Linked DNA regions of Homo sapiens. The protein of the gene in region 2 interacts with the protein of the main gene of each other region in a pairwise test. Each region holds a gene or a part of one and is shown on either strand. Other genes may lie near its edges.

The links. Proteins that work in one complex are often made in the same cells at the same time.
Region 1: the proteins of DNAJB6 (region 2) and THAP3 interact in binary tests that used the Homo sapiens proteins (3 or more experiments, as listed by UniProt).
Region 3: the proteins of DNAJB6 (region 2) and AMBN interact in binary tests that used the Homo sapiens proteins (3 or more experiments, as listed by UniProt).
Region 4: the proteins of DNAJB6 (region 2) and IFI35 interact in binary tests that used the Homo sapiens proteins (3 or more experiments, as listed by UniProt).

Annotation. Positions count from the first base shown.
Region 1 is NC_000001.11:6,630,965-6,634,062, reverse strand, and holds the end of THAP3 (THAP domain-containing protein 3), read right to left. Parts: intron 1,694-3,098; coding exon of another isoform or gene 1,673-1,693; coding exon 1,568-1,672; intron 1,268-1,567; coding exon 986-1,267; 3' UTR 501-985; downstream 1-500. UniProt on the Homo sapiens protein: Component of a THAP1/THAP3-HCFC1-OGT complex that is required for the regulation of the transcriptional activity of RRM1.
Region 2 is NC_000007.14:157,382,004-157,385,503, reverse strand, and holds part of DNAJB6 (dnaJ homolog subfamily B member 6), read right to left. Parts: intron 3,259-3,500; coding exon 3,127-3,258; intron 638-3,126; coding exon 496-637; intron 1-495. UniProt on the Homo sapiens protein: Has a stimulatory effect on the ATPase activity of HSP70 in a dose-dependent and time-dependent manner and hence acts as a co-chaperone of HSP70. Plays an indispensable role in the organization of KRT8/KRT18 filaments.
Region 3 is NC_000004.12:70,605,022-70,607,788, forward strand, and holds the end of AMBN (ameloblastin precursor), read left to right. Parts: intron 1-1,163; coding exon 1,164-1,709; 3' UTR 1,710-2,267; downstream 2,268-2,767. UniProt on the Homo sapiens protein: Involved in the mineralization and structural organization of enamel.
Region 4 is NC_000017.11:43,012,370-43,014,956, reverse strand, and holds the end of IFI35 (interferon-induced 35 kDa protein), read right to left. Parts: intron 1,911-2,587; coding exon 1,763-1,910; intron 1,691-1,762; coding exon 1,584-1,690; coding exon of another isoform or gene 1,578-1,583; intron 1,482-1,577; coding exon 1,295-1,481; intron 1,182-1,294; coding exon 1,075-1,181; intron 850-1,074; coding exon 658-849; 3' UTR 501-657; downstream 1-500. UniProt on the Homo sapiens protein: Acts as a signaling pathway regulator involved in innate immune system response.

The sequences.
Region 1 (3,098 bases), on a different chromosome or scaffold from region 2:
CACGTGAAGCTGGGGTTCCATTTTCTACATTAAACAACATTGCCTGAGAAATAAATAGACCCCAAGTTAGGAAATCAGGCTAGAACTTTTTTCTTTAATTCACTAAAGCTATAAATTAGACAAAATAGGAAGTCAGTTTTTTTTTTCAGACTGAGTCTCGCTCTGTCACCCAGTGACAATACTAGAGGGCAGTGGTGTGATCTCGGCTCACTGCAACCTCCACCTCCCGGGTTCAGCTGATCCTCCTGTCTCAGCCTCCCAGGTAGCTGGGACTACAGGTGTGTGCCACCACGCCTGGCTAATTTGTGTCTTTTTTAGTAGACATGGGATTTCACCATGTTGGCCAGGCTGGTCTTGAACTCCTGACCTCAAGTGATCTCCCCACCTCGGCCTCTCAAAGTGCTGGGATTACAGGCATGAGCCACTGCGCCCGGCCACGGAAGTCAGTCTTCTTAGAAGGAATCACGGCACTAGAGAAAATGATGATGGGAGCGACACCGTATAGAAAGACACTTTATTACACTGCCCACTCACACCAGGCCGGGACAGGAGTCACTCCTTAGAACCCCGAGCGGCTGTCCAGGCTGATGGAGGAGGGGACCACTCACCCGCCACAGAGCCAGCCCCCTCACATGGCTTCCTCCCTGAGGAGCATCTCCCACACTGGGGCTTCCAACGATCTTTGCTCTGCGTGTGCTGAAAGGACAGCGTCCAGAATCAGCCTCAGCCTGGACTTCTGTTACCATGGGAGGATAAGCTTGTCATGCTCACAGATGTGCACTCCTAGTGCCACGCCTCTAAACGTCCCCCAGACGGCATTGGGGCTCTCGCCGGGGAGCTTGGCTACTGTCTCGATCCCCGGCCAAGCAGGCCTCATGGCCAACTTTCTCAGTGTCCACAGCAGACAAAAATGTCCACAGCCAGAGCTCCAAAGCTCTGCCGGCCCTGGTGCCACTGCCACCTCTGCGTCCGGAGCCTGTGGGGCTCAGCTCTGCTGCTCTGGCCCAAGTCTGGCCTGGAGTCCCTGGTGCCCTTTGCAAGCACGGAGGCGGCTGGACATCCTTCGCATCACCAGCCTCTGGGCCTGCAAGCGCTTCCGGAGCTTTTCATTTTCCTTCAGAGTGAGGAAGAGTTTTTTCTTCAGGGAATCTAAGTCCAAAAGGGCATAGCTGTGATCAGATGGCTGCTTGTTGGGGGTCCTTCTCAGGCCTGCAGGGCCAGTCGGCCGGCCAACAGCCTCTGTTGCTTGCGGCCTCCGTGGCGAGACCTGAGGACAGGGGAGTGAGAGCCTAGAGCTGCATCACCAGCAGGAAGGCGGGCCATGGTGAGCAGGCCACCAGACACGCACACAGCACAACCCCAGGGCAGCTAGACACTCCGGGCTGCTCCCCCAAAATCCAGATGTGCCCACACCATGGTGGAGAATTTGACTGGGGAGCTCTGAAACCCAGGCTGCACACCCTGCCTCGGCCACACAGGTCTCATGGTGGGTGCTCACTGGTTTCCATTTTGTTTGGAGCAAGTCATCTTGTGTCCAACCACAGACCACCTTTGCACTCAGTCTTACCTGTTTTACGTGGCCTTCGGCATTTGGGGGCAACTGAAGCTCTTCAAGTGCAGTGTCCATGTTTCTCCCAGGACTGTCCTCTCCGGCCCCCGCCTCAGGGAGGACCTGGGAACGGCAGGGTGAAGTCTGCACTACAGCCCTGCACATGCAGGGCCCTCCTGCAGCTGCTACTTGTCCCTCTAGGGGAGTGGCAACAGCCAGGGACCAGCTCCAGGGTCTGTGCCCCTCCACAGCCAGCTTCTCCCTAGCACACACCCTGGAACTGAACTTTTTTTTTTTTTTGAGACAGTCTCGCTCTGTCACTTAGGCTGGAGTGCAGTGGTGCAATCTCGGCTCACTGCAACCTCCACCCCCAGGGTTCAGGTGATTCTCGTGCCTCAGCCTCCTGAGTAGCTAGAATTACAAGCATGTGCCACCACGCCTGGCTAAATTTTTTTTTTTTTTTTTTTGAGACGGAATCTAACTCTGTCACCCAGGCTGGAGTGCAGTGGCATGATCTCGGCTCACTGCAACCTCTGCCTCCCGGGTTCAACCAATTCTGCCTCAGCCTCCTGAGTAGCTGGGACTACAGGCACATGCCACTACACCTGGCTAATTTTTTTTTTTCTTGAGATGGAGTTTCACTCTTTCACCCAGGCTGGAGTGAAGTGGTGCGATCTCAGCTCACTGCAACCTCCGCCCCCTGGGTTCAAGTGATTCTCCTCCAGAGTAGCTGGGATTATAGGCATCCACCACCATGCCCAGCTAAATTTTTGTATTTTTAGTAGAGACGGGGTTTCGCCAGGCTGGTCTCGAACTCCTGACCTCAGGCAATCCACCTGCCGCAGCCTGCCAAAGTGCTAGGATTACAGGTGTGAGCCACCAGGCCCAGCCGAATTTTTGTATTTTTAGTAGAGATGGAGTTTCACCATGTTGGCCAGGCTGGTTTCGAACTCCTAACCTCAGGTGATCCGCCTGCCTCGGCCTCCCAAAGTGCTGGGAATACAGACGCAAGCCACTGCGCCCAGCCCGGCTAATTTTTATATTTTTAGTAGAGATGGGGTTTTTACTATGTTGGCCAGGCTGGTCTCAAACTCCTAGCCTCAAGACATCCACCCGCCTCAGCCTCCCAAACTGCTGGGATTATAAGCGTGAGCCACCTCGCCCGGCCCTGGAACTGAACTTTAAGAAATCAGGCACGGCCAGGTGCGGTGGCTCCCGCCTATAATTCCAGCACTTTGTGGGGCCAAGGCAGGAGAATCCCCTGAATCCAAGAGTTTGAGACCAGACTGGGCAAGATAGCAAGACCCCCATTTCTAAAAAAAAAAAAAAAAAAAATTTTTAATTAGCTGGGCATGGTAGCACATGCTTGTGGTCCCAGCCACTTGGGAGGCTCAGGTGGGAGGATGGCTTGATCCTGGGAGGTTGAGGCTGCTGCGAGCCATGACTGCACCACTGTACAGAGCCTGAGCAACAGAGTGAGACCCTGTCTCAAAAACAAAGAAAAAGGTTGGGTGCAGTGACTCACATCTATACTCCCAGCACTTTGGGA
Region 2 (3,500 bases):
AAGAAAATGCATGTGTGAGGGTAACTAAGTTGTTTAAGGACATTACTGAAATACACCATGAATATAAGTAATTTTCAGGCTGTAAAAACATGGCTGAAGCCAACCTGTCAACAACACATCTTCCTTTCCTAAAATAGAATTAACCTGACAAAATAAATTGTGTCTCAAATACCGTACAGGCGGATGCTAAATACATGCAGAGGCTATAAAACAGTAAAGGCTTTACTATTAATGATTTTCCATTTTACCATTTTAACAATGCTGCAGAAACTTATTACACTGTATTACATTAAAGATTCCCTCTAATAATTCAACAGTTAAGTAAAATTTAAGAGAAAAGGCTTTAATTAATGAATTTGGAGAGCAAAAGATTTTCATGGCGCCAGATTTAGCATACAACAACCTCTACTTCACACTCTGGGAGACGTGCAACATGGCACCAGTGAAACGTTACGCCTGCTTACTAAAAATATAAAATGCAGAATACCACAGTACCTCTTTGTAGTGATTTTTCTGCCATTAACCATTTTAGTTGAAGTTGATATCGATTTGAAGTTGCCCATGCCACTACCACCAAATGACGTGGAAGAGAATGAAGTGAGGCCCCCGTGACCTAGTGACCCAAATGAAGTAAATCCTACAGGAAAACAGAAAAGAAAAATGCTTAAAGAAATATGTCAACTAGTAATGCAAAGACAAGAGTTTGAAAGTTCAGTAGCAGAATATTTAATGTTAAGGCATAGAACCGAGGAGTAATAAACGACGCAACTATCAAGGCCTCAGCTGAAGTGCTGGGGTGCCCAGGGGGAAAGACTGTCTCTCAGATCCCTGAGTGGGGACTCTAGGGCAACGCGAGAGTGCAGCCTCTCCCCTCCCCCTCTCCTCATGCAGAGCTTCGCGGGACCCAAGCAGCTTTTCTGACATGCCAAAGACAGCCCCTGCTTGTGGGTGGTCTGCTTGGCACCATGAAGCACGTGTTGTGTTAATGTGAACATTCTGGAACCGAGACCAGTATTAAGCTCCAACCAGCAGAGCAGCCTCGGTATCAAGCTCTGTTTGCTTTGGCGTGGCTTGTAAACTCCACAGACTGTGATGGACACTCTTACCCCACAGGAACAGAGTGACCTCACCACCACAGAACAGCAAACCTAATCGGCTTCCCTCCTCTTTGCCACAGGACCACAGGGGATAAGAATCTAAATTATTAAAAAACTAAAATAATTGCAGAAAGAATACAAGTATTCGTCTCAAAAAACTATGGTTCTACAGTTCATGAACACCATTCTCAATTATACATTATGGATATTATCGCAGTGTGGACACTAAAAACTTTCACAAGTCACACTAAAGCAAACCTATTTTTCGATATTAAAGCTGGTCTACTGGTTAGAGCTTTTGTCCTGTTTCCAAAATGCTCCCATTAACACAAATGACGCATACCTCTGAACATGATTCAATCATCTAAGCGCAGATACTGTCTAGGGCTGGTGGTGTCCTGAAGAAATATGTGAACCAGGTATGTTAAGTTTACCTTTTCTAATGATTTCACTAAAAAGCAGAAACTAGTGACATTAATTTTAGTATTTTATTTAATACAGTATATCCAAAATATTTCAATTGGAAATACAAAAAATCAAAATCATTTGCGGTATTTTACACTGCTTCCCATGTTCCATCTTTGAAACCCAATGACTATTTCACACTCCTGCTGATCTCCGTTAGGAGTAGCCAGGCCTCCAGGGCTCAGGAGCTACACGTGGCTGGTGGCTACTGCACTGGTCTCAATTAAGCCTCGCTAAGTATTTATTCTTGTGATACTTTGTAAGGCACCTCAGAAGTGGAGAAGGCTTACACCCCCACCACACACACACACACACACACACACACACACAAACACACATACAGGAGCCACTGATTACTTTTAAAAAGGACAATTTACGTGGTATTTTTAACTAGCTTTCTTAACCTGTGGTCAGCATATTCCATGGTATCAAATGAGAGGATCTGTTGAGGGAAAGCACATCAAAACTGAGGTCCAATCGAGCAGAATTCACTACTTACCTAGATGGCATGAGCGCAATGTTCAAAGAAAATAAAATTCTGACCATGATGAAGAAGGAACCCTATATAACAAGCTCTCCCAATTCTTATCGTGGAGGCTTAAAAATAAAAATGAGAGAATCAAAACAGCAGCTCCAGGCCAGGAGTGGTGGCTCATGCCTGTAATCCTAGCACTTTGGGAGGCCAAGACGGGTGGATCCACCCGAGGTCAGTTCAACACCAGCCTGGCCAACACGACAAAAACCCTGTCTCCATTAAAAATACAAAAATTAGCTGGGCCTGCTGGTGCACACCTGTGATCCCAGCTACTCAGGAGGCTGAGGCACAAGAATCACTTCAACCCAGGAGGCGGGAGGCTGCAGTGAGCTGAGACCGTGCCACTACACTAAGAGTGGCACTCACTAAAGTGAGACTCTTTTTAAATTTAAAAACAAAACACAACAAAAAAAAAAGCTCCTTTGTGAAGAGAAACTGGATGAGCTTCAGAGAAAAGTGGGATTCTTCAGGCTAAACACACAGGCATATCATGATATATGCATATTCATGTTACTCCAGTCTACAAGCTTGTTTCCATCGGTGAACTATGAAGAGCTACGTGCGTGAGGCTGACACTTCACTAGTGAGTGAGCCTGGCCTGGGCTAGTGGTAAGGCCCAGCCTTCGATTCCATCCAGTGGGATGCTCCTAGGATGCTATTTGTGCACTTTTGTTTTAACTACAAAGGAGGTTAGACAGCATGAAGGTTAGTGAGATTTTCCAACTGCGTTACTTTCCACCTACTGATGCAGAACATATGTTGCCCCTTTTTAACTAAGAATTTCATTACATTCTGGCCTTGATTATTATATTAAGAGGAGAAGATTTCCAAGCACGACATTCTTAGGAAGATTAGGAGAAAATGTAGGTTAAGCGCAGACCTGTATACCAAAAAAAGCTGGCAAATCCACAATGCTATTCTACGAAAGGTATACACATATTTTAAAGCACTCTAACTAAAAGAGTATTATGATTTTATAAGTACTAACTGCTGTTAAGATAACAGAGATTAAACCTAGGGATTTAATACCTGTATCAAAAGAAGAAAATCCACTTCCAAAAGACGGAAATCCACTGAACGCAGAGAAAAACGACCCCGTCCCTCGGCTTCTGCTTCCTCGGGGACCCCTTCGATTCCCAAAGAAGTCCTCAAAAGGGTCTTCTAAAATCAAACATAAACACACACTATGAAGTCTTTTTTTCAAGTTTTTTTCCTCATGTGATAGCTACAGTAAGAGAAAATAGATGTTTGTAACATATTCAGGAACAAAAAACTTAAGAGGTTTTAACAAAAGAGCTTATCTACAGAGTAACTGAAACACTACCTCACCAACAGTTTTACTAACTAGTTTAATTCAACTAAAACTACAATACATTGTATCAAATAAATTACCAGACTTAATT
Region 3 (2,767 bases), on a different chromosome or scaffold from region 2:
GGAACTTACAGTCTAATGAATGGAAAAGATAGGTACAAGGGCAGATACCTAATGTCAAAATCATGGGCTAAAAGTAATAACAATTTTATTAGAGAGAAAGAGTCAGAGAGGAAGGGCAGTTAGCCCAGTCCAGGGATTCACAGTATCATCCCTGGAGGAGATGATGTGAAAGCTGAGAGAGAATGAAGAGTCAGGAGAAAGGAGAAGGAAAGAGTATTGTATCTATATAGCACCAATACAAGTGGCTGGAAGTTCAAAATTCAAGTAAGTGTTAATTGCCATCACATAGTATTAATTATTTCTATTCTGCCTCATTCCCAAAAGATTTTGTAGAGCTTATGAAAAACACACAATAAATATAACAAAAAATTGAAAGTAGGATTTAAAATGAGTCATAATTTCAAGAAAATCAGAATACAGATATGCAAGTCACACAGGCCTGCTCAATTGCTACAAACAGCCTAAGATTTTGGACCCCATATTTCTGGCAGCAAAGGTAGAAAAAGAAACATGGTCAGTGCTGGTATTCTATTTGTCCACAAGAAGAAAATATTTTAGTTACTCCAGGGAAGTCACATTTTTTTTCTTAAACTTTGTGCTTTAAAAAAATTAAAGTCTTAGCTGGGTGCAGTGTCTCACCCCTGTGATCCCAGCTACTAGGGAGGCTGAGGCAAGAAGATCACTTGAGCCTAGGAGTTCTAGACCAGCAGCCTGGGCCGTATAATGAGACCCCTAAAAGAAAAAAAAAGTACATGGAACTTCATTTGGGGGACACTGAAAAATGCCATTGACAAGATTCTCGCTCAACAAATGCAGTTATGAATTTCAGTTCTTATTTGTTTTGTGATGGTAGTACTCATTTCAACTGCTTGTTTTCTTAAAATTAAATTCAAACTCACCTTTGCCTCAAGTCTTGCTTCTGCCCTGTTATCTCCCTTTTACGGAAATCATGCCGAGATCCACCCAGATAAGTGCAGAATCCTCTTCATTATGTTTCAAAGCCAGTTTAGTGAGAAATGAGCTTACACAAAGCTATCAATCAGCCAACTTCCTATTCTCCACCAGTTTTTTAGAGATCCTTGGTGAATGTGACCAGGTATAGCTGCATGGTATAGTTAATAGCATGTGATGATGGCATCTTTGACGAATGTTTTTTTTTCCAGGGCGGGAGAGAAGACCCAATGGCCTATGGAGCCATGTTTCCAGGATTTGGAGGCATGAGGCCCGGCTTTGAGGGAATGCCCCACAACCCAGCTATGGGCGGTGACTTCACTCTGGAATTTGACTCCCCAGTGGCTGCCACCAAAGGCCCTGAGAACGAAGAAGGAGGTGCACAAGGCTCCCCTATGCCGGAGGCCAACCCAGACAATCTAGAAAACCCAGCTTTCCTTACAGAGCTAGAACCTGCTCCCCACGCAGGGCTCCTTGCTCTCCCTAAGGATGACATTCCCGGCCTGCCAAGGAGCCCTTCAGGGAAGATGAAGGGACTCCCCAGCGTCACCCCAGCAGCTGCTGACCCACTGATGACCCCTGAATTAGCTGATGTTTATAGGACCTACGATGCTGACATGACCACATCCGTGGATTTCCAGGAAGAAGCAACCATGGATACCACGATGGCCCCAAACTCTCTGCAAACATCCATGCCAGGAAACAAAGCCCAGGAGCCCGAGATGATGCATGACGCATGGCATTTCCAAGAGCCCTGACAGCTCTAAGATATTAGCTACTTTCTGTATGCACAAGCTTCCCAGCTTTGTCCCCACAGTGTACCTTTTTGCTAAAACACTTATTACCCTTCTGCAGCAAAGGCATTAAAAGCGCTAAGCATATATTAATAAATGCAAGTGGCTAGAAATAGTGTAGGTCCCCTTCTTGCTTTCAATATCTTGTTGAAATAAAATGTGTCAATTGTCTCTGTGATTTAGAAACACTATTAATAACATCAGAGCAAGGTTCTAAGGGTCTCAGCATTTGATCATCACTTTTTCTTAGCTGTCTTAAGCATTATAGAATTTCTCTTACCAGCATGACACTATTATATTCAGGAAACATGGCACTGCTTTTTTCTCTAAGCAAAGGCAAATATCCTCATAATTCTAAGCTAATTCATTTAAACTTTATTAAATGGGGATTGGTGGAAAACTCCTGACTGGTATTACTGGGTTTGGTATAATTTAATTTAAAATTCTCATTTATAGAGTATTTTATTTAATCTAGTATAAAAAATCTAGCCTATTTTAAATAAAGAATTTTTCTCACTGAAATTATCAGGAATTGTATGCTTATTATTTATATAGATTTAAATGGTTCAAGAAAAGCATACTCATCCTCTACCTTTGCTTCTCTTTAATTCATTGTATTCAATTCATTCATTCTTTCATCAGAATTTTACTGAATATTCATGTCCTGGGTGCAGTGCAAGGTATCAAAGATACAGTCCCTTCCTTCAAAGCTTACAATGGACATGACTGACAAGTAGACAATCACCATAACAAAACCCTAGACCAAGCTCAATTACTTTACATATATTATCCCACAACAATACTGTGAAATAGATACACTCAACCCCACAGCACATGTGAAAAGTGCTATGAAAAGGCCAAGCACAGGGTGCCCCTGGAGCCACAGAGAAGAAGTGCCTAACCCAGCCTGAGGGTCATCGGAGAGTCTAGGAGGAATCAGACAAGTTTTCTCAGAACAGTTTCTAGAAACGGTTTCAAGAGCGAGAGCCCTCACTCTCCAAGAGGAAGAAACAGAAAAAGAG
Region 4 (2,587 bases), on a different chromosome or scaffold from region 2:
ACTGCCTTCTCAAAGCAGAGAGGCAGCTTATCAAACTCAGCCCAAAACTCTGTTTACATGGGTGGGGAGATGGAGCAGGGAAGTACAGAGTGGGATGGTCAGGACCTGGGCCATTGCAACCAAAATGGGGACTTCCTGGGTAGGGAGGTCACTCCCTCTACTCACTGAGCTAGGATTAGGGAGGGTTATTGCCCCAACCATTGCAATGGGAGGTGGAGGGACAGGCTCAGCCTCCTCATTGTCTAAATGAGGCCTAAATGTGTGAAGTGCGATTTCTGCTTTTGTGTACCCCACCACCCCATTACCACAGCTGCCTTTGTGTGTTTGTGTCAATAAAAAGCCAAACCCTGGGTCCTGCTTGTTGCCTCTGAGAGTGGAGGGAAGGTGAGCTCCTGGAAGGCTAGTGCTGCCAGCAGAAGATCTGGGCTGCTTCCTGCCCCCTGCCTCTTTCCATGCCCAAATCACGTTTCCTTTCATGAGTGAAATGAGGAAGAACATCATGGCATGCAGGCTCTTTTTACTGTTCTGGGCAGTGTTTTGCAATGTGTGACCCCTCCGCACTGTTGGTGAACATACAGACCTCCTATATGGGCACCCAAGCCCAGGCCAGTGTGAGAACCTTGGCGGGGGGGTGGGGAGGATGAGAAGGGGAGGCCCCTAGCCTGACTCAGAGGTGAAGACTGCTAGGCCCTGCTGTCCTTGGGGTACGACTGTCAGGGCCTCTACCTCCCCGCCCCCGCGGGTGGGCTTCTGGAAGTGGATCTCCAGGACGTCATGCAGCTCCGGGCCATCCAAGATATCAGGAATGTTGAGCACCAGTACCGAGCGGGGAACTGGCTGCGACCTGATCTGGAAAAGGAGCCAGGAGATGGCAAAGGCTCATGGGAGAAGGGCTGGGGGCTGGGGGTAGGGCAGGCAGTGCCCCATGGGGGTATGAGGTCGGGAGGCCTGGAGAGGCTGATGGTGGGTAGGTAGGTCAGTGGGGTTTGGGGCCTCTGATCCTTCATTGGGCAAGTTCCTGGCAGGCAGACAGGTTACCCAGCCCAGCCCCTGTTCTTCACCCCTCCTGCTTACCTCAGCCTTCTGGATCTCCCCGTTCACATACGGAGAGACTCTCAGAGGGACTTGCTGCCCACCCAGTGGCACTGTGAACTGGCCGATTTGGCACAGACGCTGAGCCACTGTGGGGAGCAAGGAGGGGTGGGCCTTTAGCATCAAGCCCTCTCCTCTCCCTGCACCGTAATCTTGCACACCCTATACCCTCTCCCCTGCAGGAGGCCTGCATAGCCCTCACCTCCATCCCTAGCAAACCCCAGCATGACACTCCCTGGCAGTAGCTCCCGAACGTCCACATCGCCACCTCCGTTCCTAGTCTTGCCAAAGAAGATCTCTAGCTTGTCCAGCAGCTCCTCCTCACTCAGCCTGAGGCTGGCAGGAAATCCAGTGACCAACACCCTCCGGCCACTCAACTGGCTGGACATCTAGGGGGAGACAGCAAGGGGTGGTCCCAGACACAGCTCCACTTCCCCATGCCCAGGTGCATGGCATGCTTTGCATGCCCCAGGATTCTGTCATACCATCACCTGGATGGTGGTGACCATGGGCAGCTCCAAGGGCTGGACCTGCACCCGCAGCCGGCACTCCTCCATGTTGATCGTGTGCTCCTTTTGTTGCAGCACCTGCTCAGCCACTGGGTGGTGGGAAACAGGGTCAGTACTGGGAACCCTCCCCACCTCCCTCCTGAGGCTCCCCATGAGCTTACCTTTGGGGTCATCAAAGGTGATCAGAGCAGAGCCCGCAAGCAGAGGGCAGTGGATCCGCAAATTGGAAACTAAAGACTTAGGCACTTCCGGGTCCTGCTGGGTGTGTCCTCGGAATACCAGGGGGATCTTGGGCACTGAAAATGGGACCTGGAAGTAGGGGAGGGGAGTAGGAGTGTTCCTCACTCCCACCTAGGAGGAAGGCATCTCCGATTCCATTCCATTGATGCTGAGTGCCGGAGATAAATACATTTACTGAAAGAAAAGCTGGATAAATGAGTGGATGAATGCAGGTCTGGTCCATACAGGGCAATTTACATACAACATCTTAATTTGTCCTGGGAGGTGGGTAGCTCTACTTTACAGATGTTCAAGTAACATAATGGAGGTCACACAGCAAGGAAGTAGCAGAGCCAGGAATAAAACCGAGAACTCCCCAGCTCTTTTTTGTGTTTCTTTGTTTTAAAGGGAGTCTTGCTCTGTCACCCAGCTGGAGTGTAGTGGCATGATCTTGGCTCACTGCAACCTCCACTTCCCAGGTTCAAGCAATTCGGACTCAGCCTCCCAAGTAGCTGGGATTACAGGCATGTGCCACCAAACCCAGCTAATTTTTGTATTTTTAGTAGAGACGGGGTTTCACCCTGTTGGCCAGGCTGGTCTCAAACTGACCTCAGGTGATCCACCAGCCTCGGCCTCCCAAAGTGCTGGGATTACAGGCGTGAGCCACTGCGCCCGGCCTAATTTTTGTATTTTTAGTAGAGATGGGATTTCACTGTGTTGGCCAGGCTGGTCTCAAACTCCTGACCTGAGGTGATCAGGCCCCCTTG